Linked DNA regions of Homo sapiens. The protein of the gene in region 3 interacts with the protein of the main gene of each other region in a pairwise test. Each region holds a gene or a part of one and is shown on either strand. Other genes may lie near its edges.

Region 1 (8,688 bases), on a different chromosome or scaffold from region 3:
ACACACCTCATCAATAATGGGATGGTGTTGACTAGCCTACACAGTAATTTACTGCAAACTTTCACATAATCTATAAACATATGTCTGGATAAACACAAAGTCTAGTTAGCAGCGCCATGTTTCGCTCAGGAACGCTGAAATGCACTTTACCTGTCGATGCACTGAGCCGCTAGGCAGGCAGTTGTCAGAATCTCTTTGATGTGAGTCAGCCAGTTAGAGGCCTCCAATTTACTGAGCCATCGGTCCATGTTATGTGTTTGGTCATTACAAGCTTCCACAAGTTTGATTAAGCTCTCCTGAAGAATGTGATACCTTTTAAAAGTAAGAAAGTAAAAAATAACAAACCCAGAAAATAGAAAGATAAAGAAACCAAACCAAAGATTCAGCCTCCAACATATCTAAGAGCAAAAGTAGTTCAAAATACTATAAAAATATTTACCCTGCTATAATTTGAGGATTAAAGGTTGAAAAACTAATATTTAAACATTGTTGCAAAGGCTTAAAATGCCTGCCATGGTAACGTATTCCTTACCTGAACAGATTAAACCCAGTTCACATACCTGGATTATCTGACTATAGGAGAGGCCAGAGCCCTGCGTTTCATGACAGGTCAGGAGACACAGCACCACTTACATTTGCAATCCTGTTCCCACCGATCTAACACTAGAGACCCAGTGCCATCAGCAGCCTTACCCAACCCAGCTTGGATCCCACTGTTTTCTAGCTACAGCTCCCATTCACCCACCTAGAGACACTTATAAATCACTCTTTTACAGTACAAACAAGAGACAATAGGTGGAGGAAACTGTGCGAAAATAGGTCGATATGGGGAGAAATTAAATCTCTAAAGTCTTTGACTTAGGAAAATATAAGTATATGTAGCAAATCTGTTCAGTGTAGCAACTGCTGATCTACCTGCAGAGGAGCTGGCCTTGTGGTGATGAGACCACAGGGTTGGCTTAGAGAAAGAATGCTAGTGAAAGGGACTCCTGCAGGCCTCCAAGAGCACAGCTTTCGCCTATCAAACACAAAGGCTGGCTGTTCAAAAAGAAAGATAAAACTAACAAACCTTTAGCTGAAGGTTCTTTCACTAAAAACAGAGAGAAAAACAATGCAAATGCATACAATCAGAAATAAAGATGAGATATTACAACTGATATCACAGAAATACAAGGGATCATAAGAGACTACTGTGAACAATTACACATTAACAAATTGACTGGATAATCTAGAAGAAATGGATAAATTCCTAGAAGCATACAACCTACCAAGACTGAGTCATGAAGAAAGAAAATATGAACAGACCAATAATGAGTAAGGAGATTAAAAAGACCTCCCATCAAAGAAAAGCCCTGGTCCTGATGGCCTCACGCAGTACCTGATTTTAAAATATGCTACAAAGCTAAAGTAATCAAAACAGCTTGGCACTGGCATAAAAACAGACACATTGACTAATGGAACAGAATAAAACCCAGAAATAAATCCATGCATTTATGGTAAATTGATGTTTGAAAAAGTTGCCGAGAACATACAATGGGGAAAGGAGCTTCTCCCATGAGTGGTGGTGGAAAAACTGGGTATGCACATGCAGAAGAAACTCAACCCTTACCTCACACCATACTCAAAAATCAACTCAAAGTAGATTAAAGACTTAAACATAAGGCCTGAAACTGTAAAAATCATTAGAGGAAAACATAAGGAAAAAGCTTCTTGACATTGGTCTGGGAAAAGTTATTTTGGATATGACCTCAAAAGCAGAGGCAACAAAAGCAAAAATAGACAAATGAGACTGAACAAACTAACAAGTTTTGCACAGCAAAACAATCAACAGAGTAAAGAGACAACCTATGGAATGGGAGAAAACATTTGTGAACACCACACTGGATAAGGGGTTAATATCCAAAATATGTAAGAAACTCAACTCAACAGCAAGAAAACACAAAACCTGATTAAAGAATGGGCAAGACCTGAACAGACATTTCTCAAAAGAAGACATATAAATGGCCAATAGGTATTTGAAAAAAAAAATGCTCTGCATCACTCATCAACAGAGAAATGAAATTCAAAACCACAATGAGATATCACCTCACCCCTGTTAGAATGGCTATTACTAAAAAGACAAGATTTAACAACTGTTGTTGAGAATATGGACAAAAGGGAACCCCTGTACAATGCTGGTGGGAATGTAAATTAGTATGGCCACTGTGGAAAACAGTATGGAGGCTCCTCAAAACATTAAAGATGAAACTGCAATAAGATCCAGTAATCCCACTTCTGGGTAAATATTTTGAATATCGGAAACGAAATCAGGATCTCAAAGAGGTATCTGCATTCCCACGTTCACTGCAGCACTATTCACAATAGTCAAGATATGGATTCAACCTAAATGCACGTCAATGGATGAATGGATTAAGAAAATGTGGTACAATACACAATAAAATACTATTCAGCCTTAAAAAAGAGGGTAGGCCAGGCACAGTGGCTCATGCCTGTAATTTCAACACTTTGAGGGGCCGAGGCAGGAGGATCACTTGAGGTCAGGAGTTCGAGACCAGCCTGACCAACATGGCAAAACCTGGTCTCTGCTAAAAATACAAAAATTAGCCAGGCGTGGTAGCAGGCACCTGTAGTCCCAGCTACTTGGGAAGCTGAGACAGGAGAATCACTTGAACCTGGGAGGCAGAGATTGCAGTGAGCTGGGATCGTGCCACTGCACTCCAGCCTGGCTGACAGAGCAAGACTCCATCCCAAAAAAATAAAATAAAAATAAAAAAGAGGGGAAGCCTGTCATTTGCAATAGCACAGATGAACCTGGATGACATCATGCTATATGAAATAAGTCAGGCACCCATGCACAGAAAGATAAACACTGCATGAACTCACTTATATGTGGAATCTAAACAAGTTAAACTCATAGAAACAGAGAGTAGAATGGTGGTTGCCAGAGGAAGAGAAAGTAGCAGGAGGGGTCGGGGTAGGAGGGACACAGATATGGGGACATGTTGATCAAAGGTAACAACAAAGTTTCACTTAGGAGGAATTAGTTCTGTAGGTCTATTGTACAGCATGGTAACTGTAGTTAAAACTAATATATTGTATGCTTGAAAACTGCTAAGAGAATAGATATTAAATGTTCTCACCATCCAAAAAAATGATAACTATGCGACGTGATAGGTTAATTCACTTAATCAGTTCACAATGTATATGTATATCAAAATAGCACAGTGTACATCACAAATACATGTAATTTTTATTTGTCAATCAAACCTTAATAGAGCTGACCAAAAAAAAATGAGAAGATGGCTAGCCCATCATTGACCCTAAATTAATGCAGAAGTTAATTTGAGCACTTGTGATTTTCAAATGGCTAAGGCCTTACCCACTATAATTAGCTTCTAATAAGAGTCTGTACTATCTTTGGAATCTTTTACCTCTCAATGGACTTATGAATTCGCCTCCACTGAGGATAATGAGCTTCTTGTTCAAAGCCACCTCCTTTGGCTCTAGTTTGCTGAGCCACGTTCAGGGATCGGGTGTCAATGATGTAGCCACGCTTTCCAGCCCTGAGGGTAGCATTTATCAGCTTCTCGTCCTCCTTGCACCTCCTCCCGTTTGTACCAGTGAGTGGCTGACCACTTCGCATAATTACCTAGAAGCATAATAAAGCTGAAAATTCAACAGCAGTTGCTTTTAAAGTTTCTGAAAACAGAAAGAAATTAGCTAGATTAAGAGTATCTCAAAAACAATTGTGTGACACTCTGCAGATGGATTTGATCCATAAACAAAGAAATATTTGCATGTATTGACAATAGTTAATAACTATAAAAGATAAGCCTTAAGCTTTTACACAATTTCTCTGTCTCAAAATACTGTCACATAATAAATTATATCTCCTCTTTAAGATCAAATATTGCAATTCATTTAGTGTGTGAATCAAATACCTGTAGACCTGGACCTGTAATAAAGACAATAATGGCCTATGAGCCAGTAAACCTTGACTTCAACTAAACATACATAGAGTTGGCAGGTTTTAACAACAATTATAAGAAGTAAAGGCACCAGTGGCAAAATTTAAAAGTTCAAACACTGTTCTCATTGTTTGGGAAATCATTTTCACTACCTCAGAAGCTGACTGTCTATTATGTATTCTCCAGTGGCCTCTACCATCCTTTTCAGTATTCAAGGATTTAACTACTTGTTTCTAAAAACTACCCCACCAACTATACATCTGGAAATGTTTGCTTTTGAAACTTTTCTCTAGAAATCAATGTCTATTATACTAATCTCTTCCCTGGCGAATGGTTTAGAGTTCTTTCAAGACGCCACCATTACAAGGTAGTTATCTTAACTCCTTGTTTAATCCTGACTCCAGTGTTTACTAGAGTTGTGACTAAATGACATGAGCATCACTCTTTTCACCTTTGAAAATAAATACGTCTGCTCCACCTTTCACGTGTAAAGTTGTTAAGAAAAATTCAAGTATTTTACCATTATTCTGAACAGAGAAATTTCTCATTTTTCTACCAGAAGAATGTTGCTGTAAGCATCAAATAAACACTAGTTTCCTTTGTATAGTGTCCTGGAGATAAAGCTATCAGGGCTTTTATACGGCTGAGCAGGATCATGGAAAGAATTCAGCATCACATCCTCACCACAGAAAACACCCTACTCCTGATTCCCTAAAGCTTACATGAAGGAAGCCCTTGTGGTGGAGACCTGGACAATCATTTCAGTGAACAGACAGAGAGCAAAAGGGAACATTTCTACGAAAAGATCCCCAACCCAAGCCTTTCAGTACATCAAGCAGTAGTGCTGTGCACTTACCATCCCATTTTTTTTGTGGTAATAGCTTAGTACTGGGAAGCGCCCTCCATGTCGAAATGTAGCTACCTTCCGAAGAGCTTCATCATCGATGGATTTGGGCACTGTGACAATTGGTGGGTAAGAGGGACAGACAGCAAATTCCTTATTGACATAGCTTAGCCTCCATTCACTGGTCTGAAAAACACAAAATACTTCAAAGCTAAGCAACTATCTCAATGTCGCAAAATAATCTGAGAAATTTTAAAAGACCTTAGAGGTCAACTTTCACTGATGAAGAAGCCATTTCTCAGGAATTTCACAGGTGGATCTCTAGCTTATATGTAAGTAGCTGCAGAGAAAAGGAGCTCTATGGTTCAGGGCCAGCTTCCTGCATTGCTAGGTATCACCAGTTCCCAGAAAGTGCTTTCTCACACTGAGCAAAACTTGTTGCTCTGTAGCTCCCTCTATTGGTTTTTACTGTACTTTCAGACAACACCGTACAAGTTCCCTATTTTACACGGTATCCCATCAAATGTTTGAAAGACAGCTGATCCTCCTTAGTGTTCTATTCTCCAAGTTAAATATATTAAGCACATCCACAATTATCACGGCCAACATCATCCTACTTCTTCCTTTTCTGGGTCCCATTTAGTTTGTTAATGATCCTCTTAAAGCACAAGTAAGACTGTACGACTCCAGATAATGCATCCCCAGAACAAATGAGAACACAGCTACTATCTATATCAAACCCTTTGTTTATTTTAAAAAAGGTAAAAAATGTACTAAGATTGGTAACACCTTTCTTAAAACAGTACCAACTCAATACTAAGGAAGGTTAAGCTTAGGAGTCAATGAAATAATTTCAAACTGAGTAAGGACTAGAAGTATACAATATAAAACTATCAAATGACAACTTATTTTAAACATCAGAATTAAAAACAGCTTGAACACTGTCAAAAGGTTTTACAGTAAAAAAAAAAAATCAAATTATATGTAAATTTCAATATGTTCTGTATATCTGAGTTGGCCTAACCATGGGTTACAATAGCAGGAAGATAAAGCTAAAAAGTATGTTAGACGTACTAACAGACAAGATTATTACTTTTAAAAAATGCTTTTATAAGATACAGTATCACATTTTTAATTAAATTTTTTCACTTTTCAAAGTTATTTATGTTACCAGTTTAAAAACATAGTTTCTAGGCTGGGCACAGTGGTTCACACCTATCATCCCGGCACTTTGGGAGGCCAAGGCAGGCAAATTGCTTGAGTTCAGGAGTTCAAGACCAGCCAGGGCAACATGGCCAAACCCCATATCCACTAAAAATGCAAAAATTAGCCAGGCACAGTGGCACACACTTGTATTTCCAGCTACTTAGGATGCTGAGGTGAAAGAATCACGGGAGCCCAGGAAGTCGAGGCCACAGTGAGCTGTGACAGCGCCACTGCACTCCAGCCTGGGCAACTGGAGTGAGATTGTTTCAAAAAATAATTAATTAATTAATTTAAAAAAAACACAGTTTCTAAAGATTTATTATTTTTAAAAAAATGTAGTTATCTGTTCCTTGCTAGCCCATCCCAATTTGCTTTCCCCAAAGGCAATCATTTTCAACATTTTTAGCTTTTTCAGTGTTTACCTTTACATTTCTAAACAACATGATAATACTGTTATTTCTTGAACTTTCACTATGATATATTATTATTGATTTCCTACTCTGGAGAATGACAGGGCTCTCCATTGATCTGCAATGCCGCTTCTGTTGGTCCAAATGTACTGTGCTCTCCATCCCGTCGCACTTGTCCACTTTAGTAACTCCTATAGCTTTTAAAATAAGTTTGGTATCTAGTAGGCCAAGTGTCCTCCTCTCACCTTTTTGTTCTTCAAAGAGTAACGTGGCTCCTCTTGGTCTTTTGGTCTTCCATGCAACTTTTATCAAATTCAATATAAAAACCAACTGGGGTTTTTATTAAGATTGTATTGACTTTATAAATCGGAGGGAATGACTTACATCTTTAGAATATTCAGTCTCTCTATCCATGAGTATATTGTCTTTTCCATTTGTTTAAGCTTTCAAAATTTTTTCCATAAATTTTTATAATTCTCTCAATAAAGGTCTTACTATCTTTTCTTAGATATATTCCTAGAAACCCAATAATCTTTGTTGCATTTTAACTGCATCTCTTCAAAATTGTGTTTGGTGTACAGAAATGCCTATGATCTCAAGATTCTTTCCTTTTCCTATGTAGACAAGCATATAATCAATAAATATTGACAATTTTGCTACCTTCATTTCAATCCCTATACCCTGTATTTTTCCTTCTTGTCTTATTGAGCTGACTAGAAGTAGTCACAATGGACATCCTTGCCTCATTCTTGAACTTAGAGAGAATGATACAAGATTTGCTTTTTTTATGTTTTTGGTTTTGGTACCCATCCTTTATCAGATTAAATAAATTTCCTTCAAATCCAACTCTAAGAGCTTTTATCATAAATAGATATTGATCAAACTTTTTTCCTCTGTTAATCTAACACCATGCAGGTCATTTGTCTTTTAACTTTGTGGTATTTTCTTTGCTTTATTGTTCAGTAGCTGAACAACAACATGTCTAAAGATTTTTTTATTATCTTGTATGGTATTTGCTGGGATACCTCAGCTTAAGGGTTCAATAACTTCTACTGATTCTGGAGAATTATCAACCATTATGCATTTGAATATTGTCTTTCTTCTATCATCACCTTTTTTTTTTTTTTGTCTTCCTCTTTTTTTTTTTTTTTTTTTTTGGAGACAGGGTCTTGCTCTCTCACCCAGGCTGGAGTGCAGCGGCATTATCACTGCTCACTGCAAACTCAACTTTCTGGGCTCAAGCCATTCTCCCACCTCAGACCCCCAGGTAACTGGGACCAAAGACACACATTATCACACCTAGCTAAATTTTTTCATAGAGATGGGGTTTCACCATGTTGCCTAGGCTGGTCTCAAACTCTCCTGAGCTCAAGTGACCTGCCTGCCTCAGCCTCCTTAAGTGCTAGGATTATAGGTGTGAGCCACCATAACCAGCCTCTATCATCTTTTATCCTAAACTCCCATGTAATAAATATTGGATCTTCTTCCTTTATTAAGCATGCATGTGTCTAACCTCTCTGTTTTTCCATCTTCCTTCTCTGTTCCATATTCTGAGTAATTATTTCGGATCTATATTTCAAATCACTTATTTTCTCCTAAGCTGTTTCTAATCAGCTACTTAACATTTGCATTAGATTATTCTTTTATCTTCTTTTTAGTCAACTTTGAGACAAAACTTATAAAAAATAAACTGAATCCATTTTGACTACACAATTTCATGAGTCTTGACAGTTGTATACACCTGTGTAACACCCAATACTAGGAAATCACTAACCTGCTTTCAGTCACTTTTGGTGTCATATCTAAAAAATCTCTGTCTAACTGAAGGTCATAAAGATTTTCTCCTGTGCTTTCTTAAAGAGGTTTGATAGTTTTAGTTCTCATGTTTAGTTGCATAATACATTTTAGTTAATTTTTGTGGATGATGTGAGGTAAGGGTCTAGGTTTATCTTTTTTACATATGGATATCCAACTGTTCCAATACTATTGGTTGAAAAAGCTATCCTTTCCCAATTGAATTGTATTGGTACTTTTGTCAAAAATCAACTGAGCATTAAGGGGAAGGTTTATTTCTGTACCCTGTATTCTGTTTCATTGGTCTGTATGTCTTCGCTTACAGCAATACCATACTCTCTTGATTACTGTGGCTTTACAGTAATCAAGTGTTTTCTCAAAGCTGTTTTGACTTTCCATATAAACTTATATATTTAAATTTGCATTTCCATAAAATTTGTATCATTTTGTCCATTTCTACAAAAAC
Region 2 (6,682 bases), on a different chromosome or scaffold from region 3:
AGGCATACATGTCTTTTTATCCTTCTATTTCTACTAATTCCCTCCATGACCTCTCTGTCAGAAAAATTGTGAGTTATATACTGGTTTTAAAATACTTGTTCTATATGCTCTAGTCTTCTATTTGTTAAAAGATAGTTTTCAGAAATGGGTAAAATTATTGTCATGCAGATAAGCAGATATAAAAGTCAACATGTGTTAAGAGTAATCTATTCATTAATCAATGAGGGGACCAGGTAGATGTTATAACCAGTTCAAAAGAGAACCCTAAGAACAGACACATTTATAGATCAGGAATATTCAAATGAATGTGTAAATGGAGGCAATGCTGATTTTTCCACATGGGGAAAGGGAAGTCAGTTGAACGTCTACAGACAGGATATACTGTGCATGTCTACAGACAGAAATTATTTGGTCTTGCTATCACTCACTTATAACTTACAGAGTTGTAAGATACCCCAAGGACAGTGAAAGGCTAGAATCAGACGACTGGAAAGGTATGTTGTATGTGGATAATGCCTCGTTTTCCACTAAAGCATAATTTTTTCCTATACACCTGGTCTTGTTTTTTCCTGTCTTTCTGGATATTTAATTCCCACCTGTTCTTCAGTGACCTTTAATATCTGCAGAAATGAGTTTTATCTCTGTCTTTTTCATGTAGTCCTTGCTGTCTAATTTACTTGCCATTTACTTGTATGGTACAGTATTATTAACTATCTTTTTAGCATTTTTAAAATCTACCTAAATATATCATAAGATAATTTTATAGTCAGAAATTATATCAAATGTTAGACACTCAGTGATTATCTGTTGTTTGGAAAGAATATCTTCTCCCTCCTTTTTACTGTGACCTAAGTACCTTAAACCTCTACCACTCCCTCCAACAACGTCAACAATGTCATGTCCAGCACCATCATGTCTTGTTTAGCCTGGAATTAGTGAATTCTTAATATTGGGTTCCCCAAAAGAAAATCAGTATATTCAACTAAAAACAAAGCAAAAACCTTGGATAATAACCTGCTATGTATGCATAGCTTGAGTTCAACATATGTCTTAAAGAGGTTTTGATAGTTCAAATAGATGTGATTTTTACCTAATAAAGCTATTTTCAATTTCTATCCATTTTCAACAGGTATTTACTCATGTTATCAGTTGTGCAAAGTGGGGAGGGATATTTGACTTGGGAATGAGGGATGTTTTCTCCTTCCAAAATACATGTTCTACAGAAAACCAAACACTGCATGTTATCATTTATAAGTGGGAGCTAAAAATTGGGTACACATGGACATAAAGATGGGACCAGTAGACACTGGAGACTGCAACAGTGGAAAGAGTGGGAGGGGGGCATAGGCTGAAAAATGAACTAGTGGGTACTGTGGTCACTACCTGGGTGATGGGTTCAATCCTGCCTCGAATCTCAGCATTGTGCAATATACCCTTGTAACAAACCTGCACATGTGCCCCCTTGAATCTAAAATAAAAGTTAAAAAAAAACACCCCCTACATTAACAAAATCACGAAGCCATAATTCCCAGAAAAACAATTATATTCAGCTCATTAATTATGTGTTTATTTTCTTTATTGGTATTTACAAGTATATTCCATGTCCAAAAATTATTGTTTTTTAAGTGTTTTGTTAGTTTTAGCTAAATATTTTAGTTATCAGTAAATAATGTTTATTTTTTACAAGCACTAACTACAAAACTCCACTTCTTTAGATGAGAGATGCTGACAAACATTATATAAAACCAATTACAAAATGTGAAAGTAGCACACAGACGAATACACACATACTGCCACCAACGATTGTGAGATCATATGAGTGGAATGAATGGGAATTAAGAAGAAAAGCTATAAAATTGGTTTGTAACAATACTTTCTAGAATTATTTATATGTTGGGGAATTTTAATCTATTGTTACTCATAGAGTTGGTAAATTAAATTATTTATATAAAATAATGAGTTTTATACAGAGTTCTTTGCTAACAAAAATATAATTTATAACTTGCTAGGTTTACATTATAAGATTGTCTTCTAATTTTAAGCATATATAGAACAATGATAATATCTATATATCTATCTGTCTATCATCAGTTTTAAAACTTGGTGCTAGTATTTAAAGCACTCCCAACTTCCTTTAATCACTTAAGGTATACCATTCTTTTTTTTGTTTGTTTTTTGGACCTTTTCTATTAAAGCATAGATATTTTCCCCTCAACAACATATTATCTCCAGACCCTGGGCACTCTCATCCTTCTGATTCTCAGTCACCTTAATTACAATATAGATACCTACCCTTAAAGCCTGTCTTTGAAACTCTCATCCCTGTCCAACTGAGTGAAATTACCCCCACCATCCCCTCTTTATGGTATCTTGTCATTTTAAACAACAAATATTTATAGTATGGAAAAAATAAAATATTTTGTCTGTAGCCCCTTTTTAGTATATTTTATCCATCTCTTTAACTGAAATCAGGTGTGGAAATAAACAATGCCTACCCAAATGAGAACAAAGCAAGGCTATTTATTTAGAGCTTACTGTAGCAAGGGAGTCAGACACTGTCACTTGTGTTTGGTAGACTCAAAGCATGCAGGGGAGTGGGAAAGCTTTATAGTCAGAAAAGGGGGAAGCCTTCAGATGTTCTCTGATTGTAGTTTGTTAACATGAGAAAGCTGGAAGCAGGCTAACTAGAAGCAGGGCATTTTATGAGATTGGTTTGGTGAGCATATCTAGGTTTCTCTGGTTGGTCCTGAGTTGGGGCAGAAGGGGCCAAAAAATGGAGAAGTTGGCTAAGTCTTCAACATTCTGGGTCAACTGCTACAGCTATAGAGGTTGAGACTGGCTTCCCTGACTGGTTGATGTACAGGCTGCAAGTCAAAGAGTTCTATTGTCATATATGGTCTAGCCTTTGTCCATTTGTATATTCAGTCCATTTGTATATTCAGTCCCACTGACCACATTATTTCCTTTGCTACTCACTCTGGTGGCAGCTTTTCAGTTCCCTGGCATGAGGAAGGATCAGTTTCCCCATATATCTTCCAGATCATTGTTCCATTAGTATTCCTTCCTATCAGTTACTCTCCTGTAGTTCATGAAATGCCCAACCCCCATATTATTTTCTATTATCTACTAAACTCACTTGAGTTCATTAGATTTATTGGGTAACATATATATCCCACTACTTTGTTCTAGCAAGTGATACTGTTACATTAAAAATATTTCAGTACCTCCTTGTAAGTGGTACCTCCTTGTAAGTGGTGTAACAGAAGTGAAATGAAAATTCTACTAAATTAACATAGGTGATATTTTATGTTGCTTTTGAGATACAAATAGGCAAAGAGGAGGAGGGAAGTGATGGCTGGATAGGATAGGAGAGATAGAGGTGACAGCATAGGTATGGACTGGAAATGTTAAGAGAATGGGGTATTCAGGGGTCTGAACTTCATACTGACTGAGCCCTCTCTTCCCATTCCTCAATCTCCACTTAATTCTGACTCTCACCTTGGGCCTTATTATTCCCTAGAACTGTATTATATTGAATGCCAGCTCCCCAAGTGTCACCTACCTAACCTGTGGATAAGACAAAGCTGAGTTTATTGCTTACAGCCATAAGGGAAAACACCACCTCAACAGTGCTTTGGCAGTGTCTCAGAAGAGGAACTGCAAAGTCAGAATTGATTGAGAATTTGAAGTTTGCTAAGGCAGGTCTTCCAATGACTGAGGTGGACTGGGGGTAGGATGGAGGTTTGAATCGGATTGGGTAAGGATCATGAAAAAGCAGTCCAGCATTGGTGGGAATAGCAAGAAGATTTTTTGAGGCAAGGGATGCAGACTCTTAGGACTGAAACTGTGTTTTGATGCTTACTACTGAAGAGTTGACACATCTCTCAGGTACTACTGAAATGAGCAATCAAGTTATTTGCTTAGGCAAGAGTCTCTTGGAATGGTAAAATCATGCTAATGAAGACAATGGAATAGTAAAGTCATATTAATGTGGACAATAACCTGGGTATTGGGGAGTAGTTTCGGTTCTCAGTCACCTGCAGTATCTCAAACTCTGAAATGTTTCCTCTAATTCCAGGTGTCACCTTCTTCACTCACATGCTATAATGCCTTTTGAGTTTTTTCTTGGCTTTTACTATAAGTGCAGCAACCTTATTCTTCTTTTTATAAGCTCCTCCTTGCTTCCCAGCCTGAGTAATCTGTTTAACCTCATGTTTACTAATAATCTATAAAGGGAGTAAGCAAAATGTAGAATACTGTAAAATACAAAATGGAAAGCATCAGACTCTTTTATGTTAAAAATCTAGGGTGAAGTCCATTTTTAAAAGATAATACTGTATAAATCTTATATTTTTGTTAAAAGAAAACAAGTATAGTGGAAAAATCCAAGTTATATGAATCTCAAAGTATAATAATGAAGGAATTAGATTATATTAATAAATAACTGGTTGAGTTCACTGTAATTTTGAATCTGTATGTTTTTTGAGGTCAATTTTCAACATTTTACATATTTTTCTACGTCTTGGTAAGGGATATTTAATTTTCTATTATGTTCTAGATTTTCCAATGTTTTATAGAAAAAATGCTATGTTATGGAATTAATTTCTTGTGGATTGAAGACAAAAATAGGCAGATATTAACTGGTATCTGATAATATTTTATGTTATTTGTTCTTTAGAGAAATGTTAATTCCTGTATTCTCTTTCTCTTTAGGCTAATTTGCGCCAGAAAGTTACTCACTCAGTACAAACTGATCTTAGTCACTTGAGAAGAGAAAATTGTTCCCAAGTGTACCCTCCAAAGGACACTAGCACCCAGTCCATGAGGGAAGACAGCACTGGGGTGCCCAGGCCTCAGATTTACTTGGCTGGTCTTCGTGGAGGAAAGAGCGAAATCACCGATGAGGTCAAGGTGAACTTAACTAGAGATGTGGATGAAACCTAATTACAGACAACGTTTTAAAATAGATGCTACTCAATTATGAACAATAGCAAGTACTTAAAGGTATATTAACATCTATACAAATTAATTTTGTAGGGGTGGCACATTCATTGGTTGTGTGACTGTTTATTGGGTTCCCATATTTTATCAAACTGTTTTCTGTAACACATTTTTCATTCTGTTGAAATTGAAAAATAAAACTGTCCATTTATCTTTTATTTGTTAGAAAAATTTGTCAGCATTAAGATTGAAATTATGATAACATTTAGATATAAATATAAGATTATTACTGGAATAGAAGTCTATTTCTAAACCATATTTAATGTTAAACGTTACAAACTTAAAACCTAATCAATATTTTCAGCTCTGTTAGCTATTAAATGTTAACATGGATTAAACTGATATGTAACAAAACCTTACTAATTTGGAACAATTGGAGCAAAGGTCCACATGATGTTTTTTTCTTTCTTTTTTTTTTTTTTTTTTTTTTGAGACAGGGTTTTGCTCTGTCACCTAGGCTGGAATGTAGTGGTACAATCACAGCTCACTGCAGCCTCGACCTCCTGGGCTAAAGCAATCCTACCTTAGCCTCCTGAGTAGCTGGGACCACAGGCGTGTGTTACCACACCTGACTAATTTTTAAAACAATTTTCTGTAGAGACAGAGTTTCACCATATTCCCCTGGCGGGTCTGGAACTCCTGGGCTCAAGAGATCCTTTTGCCTCAGCCTCCCAAAGTGATGGGATTATAGGCATAAGCCACCATGCCCACCTCACATGGTGTTTTTCAAAATGTAGAAATTTGACATAAAATTTGTATTTCTGGCCCTTCAAAAAAAGAAGAAATCAGAATATCTGCTAACACTTGGCCAGCATTCCTGCAAGTAGTAGCTTTGCCCATTCATAGGGCAGGCACTTTCAATCCTCCATTGCCTAATCTAGTTCCTGCTGCCTTATGGGCCTCCCACGTCACTGCTTTGCCTTATTTGCCTGACTGCATAGGCAGTTGTGTTTAAAGCTCCCATGAATTGCTGGTAGCTATATTTTATAACTGTGGTTTTATTACTGTCTTACATACTTCTAATACCAATTCATGGATAATAAAGCTTCTAGGAAGGGCTGTTTATCTTGCTTTAGTAGCTAGGAGGTCATTTGTATTTGGCGTATTTTTTTCTGCTCAGGTGACCTTTTACTAAGGCATTTGTATAATTTGCTTTCTGTGTAGCTTAAATGTTTTTGTTTATTTGTTTTTGAGATGGAGTCTTGCTCTGTTGCCCAGGCTGGAGTGCAGTGGCGCGATCTCGGCTCACTGCAATCTCTGCCTCCTGGGTTCAAGTGATTCTCCTGCCTCAGCCTCCCAAGTAGCTGGGATTACAGGTGTGCACTACCACGCCTGGCCAATTTTTGTATTTTTAGTAGAGATGGGGTTTCACCATGTTGGCCAGGCTTGTCTTGAACTCCTGACCTCAAGTGATCTGCCCACCTTGGCCTCCCAAAGTGCTGGGATTACAGGTGTGAGCCACCGCACCTGGCTACTTAAATGTGATTTATACTATGAATATGCTTTCAAATCCATTTTCTGCATATAAACTTCAAACAAACCTACTTCTAATTTTTTGTGATTTTCATACCTGTAGTTTACAAATGATGTTTAAGATAGACTGGCTGGCTGTTAAGGCAGGGCCTGGAGGAGTGGGGTGATACTAAAATTTACAAATTCAGGAATGTCATTTTATCTGTTC
Region 3 (8,688 bases):
TTTTTATATTTGTAGTAGAGACAGGGTTTCACCGTGTTAACCAGGATGGTCTCGTTCTCCTGACCTCGTGATCTGCCTGCCTCGGCCTCCCAAAGTGCTGGGATTACAGGCGTGAGCCACCGCGCCCGGCCAATAGATGCATTTTTTAATCCCTGTTTTACTGGTGAGGAACCTGAGTAAAACTGGTGTTTTACTGGTGAGCAACCTCAAATTGCTTAGGCAATTTGAGTAATGTGCTGTATTAGTTTTATAGTGCCGTGTAACAGATTACCACTAACCTGGTAATTTAAAGCTATGCAGATTTATTACCTCACAACGGTTTCTGTGGGTCATGAGTATGGGCACAACTTAGTTGGGTCCTCTGCCTAGGTTCTTAACAATGCTGCAATTAAAGTTCAGCTGGGCTGCATTCCTTTTTTTTTTTTTTTTATACTTTAAGTTCTAGGGTACATGTGCACAACGTGCAGGTTTGTTACATATGTATACATGGCTGCATTATTATCTGGAGCTCAAGGTCCTCTTCCAAATTCACATGGTCATTGGCAGAAGTTAGTTTCTTACATCTATGTGATACATGTCCCATTTACTTACTAGCTGTTGGCTGGAGACTGCTTTCTGCTCCAGATGTTTTTGCCACTTGATTGGCCCGCCCACAACATAGCAATTTATTTCTTCATGGCCAGCAGAAGAATCTCCAACCTTATGTGGGGTGGGGGATGAGGGAGCAGGATAAGACCTTCTTTTAAAGGGCTTACCTGATTAGATCAAGCACACCCAGGATAGTCTCCCTTTTTATTAACTCAAAGTCAACTGATTAGGAACCTTAGTTACATATGAAGTCTGTTTTGCCATAAAATGTAATATAATCTCAGGATTTATATCCTGTCATATTCACAGGTCCTCCCTACACTCAAGGAAAGAAGATAATAAAAGTTGCGTACACTAGGGGGTGAGAATCACGGGGAGCATCTTAGAATTCTGCCTATTACACATGCACAGTAACCAAGCAGGTAATTGACAGAGCATTGCTCTCTAGGCAAAGCATTCGTTAAAATCATTAAGCTGTACTACCTCTCAAAAACAGGAAACATTAACTGAAAAAAATTTTTTAATTTATTCCAAATACTTGATTTTGTGGATAATTTCACAGTTAGTACCATTAAAGTAAGTGTAGAATATGTCAGTACCTAAAAATGGACATATGTAAATAATGTTATGAAACAAAAATGAGACTATAAAACCTGGATATGAATATATAATATAAAATATTTAAGTTTCTGGATCTTTTAAAAACTTACCTGTCATTTGAAATATATATATATATCTAGTAATTTCTGACCTTTTAGTAAAAGATAGTTTACCATACTAAGTAGCAGGTGATAAATGTTAAATGTTTGTACTGGCAGTAAGTACTATAGAAGTTCAGAGTAGGAGAGATTAATGTAGACTAGAGATTCCCTTTAGATGTAAAATAAATTAATTTTTTTGTGAAGTAGCTTATTAGAAATTTTGCCTAGCGCTGGTTCATATTCTATTGCTTGTCATCTGTTTGCTGTACAGGATTGCCTGTGTTCTTTGAAGAAGAGCAAGTCTTCTCTTCATTCTCATTTAAATAGAAATCCTTTAGCATTACTACAGTCATTCAATTAAAATCTTAATCACTGTAATACCCTTCATTCTTTTATCATAGGATAAGAAACATGATGTTGCTGTGTATCTCTGTTAGTTGATACTTTTTACCCATCAGTCCATCATTTGCAACTATTGCGAAATAAATTGGTGGGATTTTTCTCCCCTTATACTAGGGATCTCATTTATTCTCATTCATTTGTTTTATGTCTGTGGAGTAGCTAGCTATTTCAATTGTTTTAAATTACTTTTTATTTAAAAATAGGCATGGTAGACTGAAAGTACCCCCCCCCCCAAATATGACCATGTCTTAATTCCCGAATGTCACGTTATGTGTCACAAGGGACTTTGTAATGCAAGAGACTTTGCAGATGTGATTAAGGCTCTCGAGAGGGGGAAATTAACTGTATTACCCAGGTAGGCCCAATCAAATCCAAGCGGTCCTTCTAAGAAGGAGCAGAAGGAGTCAGAGGAGAAGGCAGTGTGTGATGATGATGGAAGCAGGAGTTGGAGTGACACACCGTGAAGATGGAGGAAGGGCTATAAAAGTGAGAAATACAGGTGGCCACTAGAAGCTAAAAAAGGCAAGGAAGCTGATTCTGTCTTCAGAGCCAAAGGAACTAGCCCTCCCAACGTCTTGACTTCAGCCCAGTGAAACAGATTTCTAATTTCTGACTTCCAGAATTGTAAGATAATACATTTGTGTTATTTTAAGCCACAAAGTTTGTGCTAAGTTGTTATAGCCACAGTAGGAAACTAATACAGTAGTTGTAATATATTTGTTTACTGAAAAACTCATATTTCTCTTGCAGCATTGAGCAAATAAGCTTCCCCATAGCATGCAAATAATTGTGTGTGAAAAGTGAGACTATTTCAGAGGATATGGATAGAAGATTAAGAATTTTTGCTTGTTTGGTTAATATAAGTGTTCAATACACAGAAGATTTTTTGGATTTGTTTGAATAGAAATAGAAAATGGCAAGAAAGTACAGTGTTAACATAAGTGGGCCTTGAATGAAAGCCTGAGGGAAGAGGAAGTGTTAGTGGAAGCTGTCAGATATTTCACTTGTTTAGGTCTGCTTAGTTTCTTTCTCTTACCTTCTCTTTAGCTTTCACTAAAGACTGAATCTGTATATCTAGAGTAAATAGGCCTTGGAAAACAAGGCCTCTCCACAAGTGGATTTGTTCCTTTCAGATTTGTGTTAAAGGTTATACTCTGGCTGCTCAAAAGAAATAACAGCTGCTAGGAATAACACATTTTCAAACAACCCATCTTGCTAGTTAAGTAATTGGACTTGGAGGCCCTTTTTTGCTGTGCTCCAGATCTAAATTGAAGGGAAGTTTTTATGTTATAAAGGGCTACCCTTGGAAGAGTCTGATCGTTAGCTGGATTCATTTTCAGAAATGCACCTCCTTCAGTTTAGTTTGATTAAGTTTCTTTCTTACACATTAATATCTTTCATTATTTTGTTAATTACAAGTGTCTACCTTCATGGGCAAGTTGCTCATTTGAAACACATGCAACATTTACATTAAACTATAATATTTCTGTTTGGACAACGTGGAATCTAGATACACCATGTTTCTGAAATACACTGTGAAGAAAAGCTGCTTAGTTATACTAAGTCAGCGATGTTCAGAGATGAGCTAAGTATAACAACTCAACCTTCCCAGGCCAAGCTCAACAGTAAGGCAGATGGAGGTGTTCCATGATATAGACCAATAGTTTTCAAAGTGTGGTCCCAGATCAGCAACATGAGCAAATTCTCTGACTCTGCTTCCGACAGAAAGATTTGGAAACTCTGGGGATGAAGCTATAGTTTCATGTTTGACAAGCACCCTTCAGTTTATTCTGCTACACATTAAAGTTTGAGAATCATTGATACAGATTAAGTTTTGTTCTCGCTGACAGAACAGACTTACAGCTAAAATGTTGGAAAATCTGACTCTATTGACATGTCAGAGATAATTTGCAACTGCTTCCTTTCTGCCCGAGTTCTATCAGACTAATCACTTGAATAGATTGAAAAATCACTTATGTTTGTAGATGAAATTAAGTATTTTTTGTATTTAAATAACGCTTTTGATTAGAATCCTATTTTGTTGAAAGTGGTTGGTTTTATCTGTGTTCTGTAAAGATAGTTATAAAACCTCATCAAGATTCTACCAGTAAATCACATTCTATTCAGTATAAGGTGAAATGTTTTACATCAAGTCTCATGCTGTGTAATGGCCAAAGAGTATTTAAAGTGACTGAATGGATTCCTTGGCTCAGTATTCAAAAGTAAACATTTTACGATGTTCATGTTTAAGGCTTTCACCTCTTCTCAAAATTGACTTTATGTAACTCTCTTTATTTGCAACTCCAGAAATCACCAAAGATCATGCTTAAGCAACATGTAGCAGCAACTTATTTTTCTTATCTTTATATAGATTTACTGAAGGGTAGGTTGTTTGAAAATGGATGTAGCTTTGGGGCACAAGTCTGTTTAGCTGTGTGAATGCTATAATTTAATATTTAAGACAAAACAACAGCTTTGGCTTGGTAAATATATATCACTGATTTCTGAAAAACCAAACGAAAGAACTTGTTTTGTTGTGTTCTTATTTGACAGGTGATCTTGTGGTTCTTTCTAGGTATCCAGTAGAAAAAGCACTCTCCAGTGTTCATCTGTGGAACTGGATGGTTCCTACTTGAGCATAGCCAGACCACAGACCTACTATCAAACCAAGCAAAGACCTAAGTCTGCAGTCCAGGATTCAGCTTCAGAATCCCTTATAGCATTTAGGAATAATTCTTTGAAACCAGTAACCCTTCATCATCCCAAAGATGATCTAGATAAGATACCATCAGAGACCACAACATGTAATTGTGAATCTCCAGGGAGAAAACCTGCAGTCCCAACAGAGAAAATGCCACAAGAAGAATTGCACATGAAGGAATGTCCACATCTTAAGCCTACTCCTAGTCAATGCTGTGGTCATAGACTTGCTGCAGATCGTGTTCATGACAGCCATCCTACAAACATGACCCCTCAACATCCTAAGACACATCCAGAATCATGCAGTTATTGTCGGCTTTCTTGGGCATCTCTGGTGCATGGTGGTGGGGCACTGCAACCCATTGAAACTTTGAAAAAGCAGATCTCAGAAGATAGAAAGCAGCAACTGATGCTTCAGAAAATGGAACTGGAAATTGAAAAGGAGCGCCTTCAGCATCTGCTGGCCCAGCAGGAGACAAAGCTTCTTCTAAAACAGCAGCAGCTTCACCAGTCTCGACTGGATTACAATTGGTGAGTACTGCCTGTTCTTTTTTTTTTTTTTTTGAGACGAAATCTCGCCCTGTTGCCCAGGCTGGAGTGTAGTGGCACAATCTCAGCTCACTGCAGCCTCCGCCTCCCGAGTTCAAGCAGTTCTCTGCCTCAGCCTCCCGAGTAGCTGGGATTACAGGCGCCCGCCACCATGCCCGGCTAATTTTTGTATTTTTAGTAGAGACGGGGTTTCACTGTCTTGGCCAGGCTGGTCTTGAACTCCTGATCTCATGATCCACCCGCCTTGACCTCCCAAAGTGTTGAGATTACAGGCATGAGCTACCGCGCCTGCCCAAGTCCTGCCTGTTCTTTTAGCAATGTCTGTAGTTTGGAGAGCACAGTGTAAAATTGTTGTAATACTATAGCAGATGGGTAGAACCAGAGGTTTTTCTGGATCTTGGCTTACTCGAGATGCATATCAGTTATGTCTACTAAGTAAATTCCCCTTTATTCTTTGGAAGACTTCAAAGATTACCTTGTCTTCCAAATTGATAGCTTAGAATATCTATTTCTGAGCAGTCTGGTGTAATTTTTGCTGGGTTCCAAAGACATTTTAAAATGATCTTGCCATTATGCAGAATCCTTTGCTGTTTGATATCATTGTGGACAATATTAGGCATTAAGTAAAAGCTTGAGATTTCGGGGTGTGGAATTAGATTGTAAAGCAGTGAGATTAGCTGTCATCATTCCGAATTTATGTCTACCCACCATAATATAAAATATAACAAGTGATGGGAGTCTTCTAAATTCAACCCTTTCTGGCCATGAAGCATGACCTGTTGAATGATGAATTCTCATACACCTATCCACATGTAGGCTGTTCTTCCCTTAACAATTCTTCCTAAGAACAGTGCTTCAAAAGATAAATTGCTGTTTTATTATTATATAATGTTTCTTTACTCCACATCCTTGTTGGCATTTGGTATTCTCATTAATTTTTATTTTACCTCTTCTAATACGTGTATAGTGACATTTCATCGCAGTCTTAATTTGCATTTCACTAATGGCTAGTAATGTTGAACATCTTTTTGTGTGTGTGCACGTTTGCCCTCCTATCTTCTTCAGTAAATTCTCTCTTCAGTATTGCCCATATTCTAATTGGATCATTTGGGTGTTTTGCTGTTTGGAGAGTTCTTCATATCTTCTAGATATATGTCTTTTGTCAGATATGTGAATAGCAAATATTTTCTCCCAGTCTGTAACTTGTCTTTTCTTTTTTATCTTTAATTTTTTTTTCTTTTGGTAGAGACAGGCTCTCACTCTGTTGCCCAGGCTGGTCTTGAACTTAAATAATTATCCCACCTCAGCCTCCCAAAGTGCTGGAATTACAGCCACTGCTGGAATTTGAGCCACTGCTCCTGACTCTGCCTTTTTAGTTGCTTAATGAGATCTTTCATAGAGCAGAAATTTTTAATTTTAATGAAGTCCAATTTATCTTTTTTTTCTGTTACGGATTATATAAAGTTTTATCATAGGTGTTGAATTTTGTCAAATACCTTTTATGAATTTTGTCAAATATCTTTTATGATCATGTGATTTGTCTTATTTGCCCTGTTAATATGGTGAATTACATAGATTTTTAAATATTAAACCAGCCTTGCATCCCTGAAATAAACCCCACTTGGTCATAATGTATGATTTTTTAAAATGTTACTGAATTCCATTTACTAATATTTTGTTGAGGATATTTGCATCAGTTTTTTTTTTTTTTTTTGAGACAGAGTCTTGCTCTGTCACCCAGGCTGGAGTGCAGTGGCATGATCTTAGCCCACTACAACCTCCACCTACTGGGTTCAAGGGATTCTCATGCCTCAGCCTCCCAAGTAGCTGGGATTACAGGCGTGAGCCACTGCATCTGGCCTATTTACATTAGTTTTGATGAGGGATATTGTTCTGTTGTTTTCCTTTTTCTTTTTTCCCCTGTGTCCTTGTCTTGTTTCGGTATCAAGGTAATGCAGGCCTCATAAAATGAGTTGGGAGATGTTCGCTCTGCTTCTGCTTTCTGGAAGAGATTGTGTAGAATTGGTGTTAATTCTTCTTTAAATGTTTAGTAGAATTCTCCAGTGAAGCCATCTGGACCTGGAAATTTATTTTTTGAGACTTTTTAAATTCCAAGTTTAATTTCCTTAATACTTACAAGGCTATTCAAATTATCTATTGGATAATCTGCCTTGCCACAGGTTTGTTCATTTTAATTATCTTTCAAATAACTGGGTTTTTGTTTCATTTAGTTTTTGTTATTGTTTTTCTGTTTTCAATTTCATTGATTTCTGCTCTTTATTATTTTCTTCCTTCTGCTTGCTTTAAATTTACTTTGCTCTTCTTTTTTCCTAATTTGTTAAGGTGGAAGCATATTGGTTTGAGACTTTTTCACTTTTCTACTGGAAGCATTTAGTGCTCTAAATTCCCTTCTCGGCACTGATTCAGCTATGTCCCACAAATTTTGATATGTTGCATTTTCATGTTTATCCAATTCAGTGTGTTTTTGGGGTATCTTTTGAAACTTCCTATTTGACCCATGGGTTATTTAGAAGTGTTATATTTAGTTTCCAAGTTCTTAAAGATTTTCCTGTTTTCTGTTTCTGATTTCTAGTTTGATACCACTGTGCACACATAACACACTGTATGTTTTTCATTCTTTCAGACTTATTGAAGTTTGTTTAAGGACCCTAGGGCATGCTCTATCTTGATATATGTTCCATGATGTTTGAAAAGAATACGTATTCTGCTGTTGGGTGGTGTGTTCTGTAAATTGTATCCTATTATTTGACAGTATTGTTGAGTTCTTCTATATTCTTGCTGATTTTCTACCTACTTCTATCAATTATTGACAGAGGCGTTTTGAAATCTCCAAGTACAATTGTGATATATCTATTTTTCCTATTAGTTCTATTAGTATTTGTTTTAAATATTTATACTTCTGTTCTTTGCTGCTTATGCATTAAGTTTGCTATGTCTTCTTGGTAGATCGACCATCTTTTCACTATGTAATGTCTTTCTCTGTCCCCAGTAATTTTTTTTTTTTTTTTGAGACAGAGTCTCTGTCGCTGAGGTTGGAGTGCAGTGGCACCATGTTGGCTCACTGCAACCTCCGTCTCCTGGGTTCAAGCAATTCTCCTGCCTCAGCCTCCCGAATAGCTGGGATTACAGGTGCCCACCACCATGCCCGGCTAGTTTTTATATATGTATTTTTTAGTAGAGATGGGGTTTTACCATGTTGGCCAGGCTGGTCTCGAACTGCTAACCTCAGGTGATCCACCTACCTCGTAAATTTTTTATCTAAAGTCTCCTTTACCTGATGCTAATATAGCCATTCTTACTTTCATTTTATTAAGGTTTTCAAGATGTGTGTTCTTCCATCCTTTTACTTTCACCCTATATATGTTGTGATTTTGAATTCAGTTTCTTAGACACAGCATTTGAGTCAGCCAGTTTCTTTTAATTGGTATGTTATGTTCAGATATTTCCTTTTTTGTTTTTGATTTTTTTCTTCCTTTTTTTTTTTTTTTTTTTTTTTTTTTGGTTTGACAGGATCTCACTCTGTTGCCCATGCTGGAGTGCAGTGGCACGATCATGGCTCACTGCTGCAGCCTTGACCTCCTGGGCTCAGGTGATCCTCCTGCCTCAGTTTCCTGAGTAGCTGGAACTACAGGCACGTGCTGCCATGCCCAGCTAGTTTTTGCATTGTTTGTAGAGATAGGGTTTTGCCATTTTTCCCAGGCTGGTCTTGAGCTCCTGGGCTCAAGCA

The links.
Region 1: the proteins of KIAA1328 (region 3) and MTMR9 interact in binary tests that used the Homo sapiens proteins (3 or more experiments, as listed by UniProt).
Region 2: the proteins of KIAA1328 (region 3) and CFAP206 interact in binary tests that used the Homo sapiens proteins (3 or more experiments, as listed by UniProt).

Annotation. Positions count from the first base shown.
Region 1 is NC_000008.11:11,301,151-11,309,838, reverse strand, and holds part of MTMR9 (myotubularin-related protein 9), read right to left. Parts: intron 4,999-8,688; coding exon 4,825-4,998; intron 3,650-4,824; coding exon 3,432-3,649; intron 313-3,431; coding exon 151-312; intron 1-150. UniProt on the Homo sapiens protein: Acts as an adapter for myotubularin-related phosphatases. Increases lipid phosphatase MTMR6 catalytic activity, specifically towards phosphatidylinositol 3,5-bisphosphate and MTMR6 binding affinity for phosphorylated phosphatidylinositols.
Region 2 is NC_000006.12:87,459,307-87,465,988, forward strand, and holds the end of CFAP206 (cilia- and flagella-associated protein 206), read left to right. Parts: intron 1-1,715; coding exon 1,716-1,859; intron 1,860-4,713; coding exon 4,714-4,944; 3' UTR 4,945-5,159; downstream 5,160-6,682. UniProt on the Homo sapiens protein: Essential for sperm motility and is involved in the regulation of the beating frequency of motile cilia on the epithelial cells of the respiratory tract. Required for the establishment of radial spokes in sperm flagella.
Region 3 is NC_000018.10:37,062,624-37,071,311, forward strand, and holds part of KIAA1328 (protein hinderin), read left to right. Parts: intron 1-4,244; exon of another isoform or gene 4,245-4,266; coding exon 4,267-4,922; intron 4,923-8,688. UniProt on the Homo sapiens protein: Competes with SMC1 for binding to SMC3. May affect the availability of SMC3 to engage in the formation of multimeric protein complexes.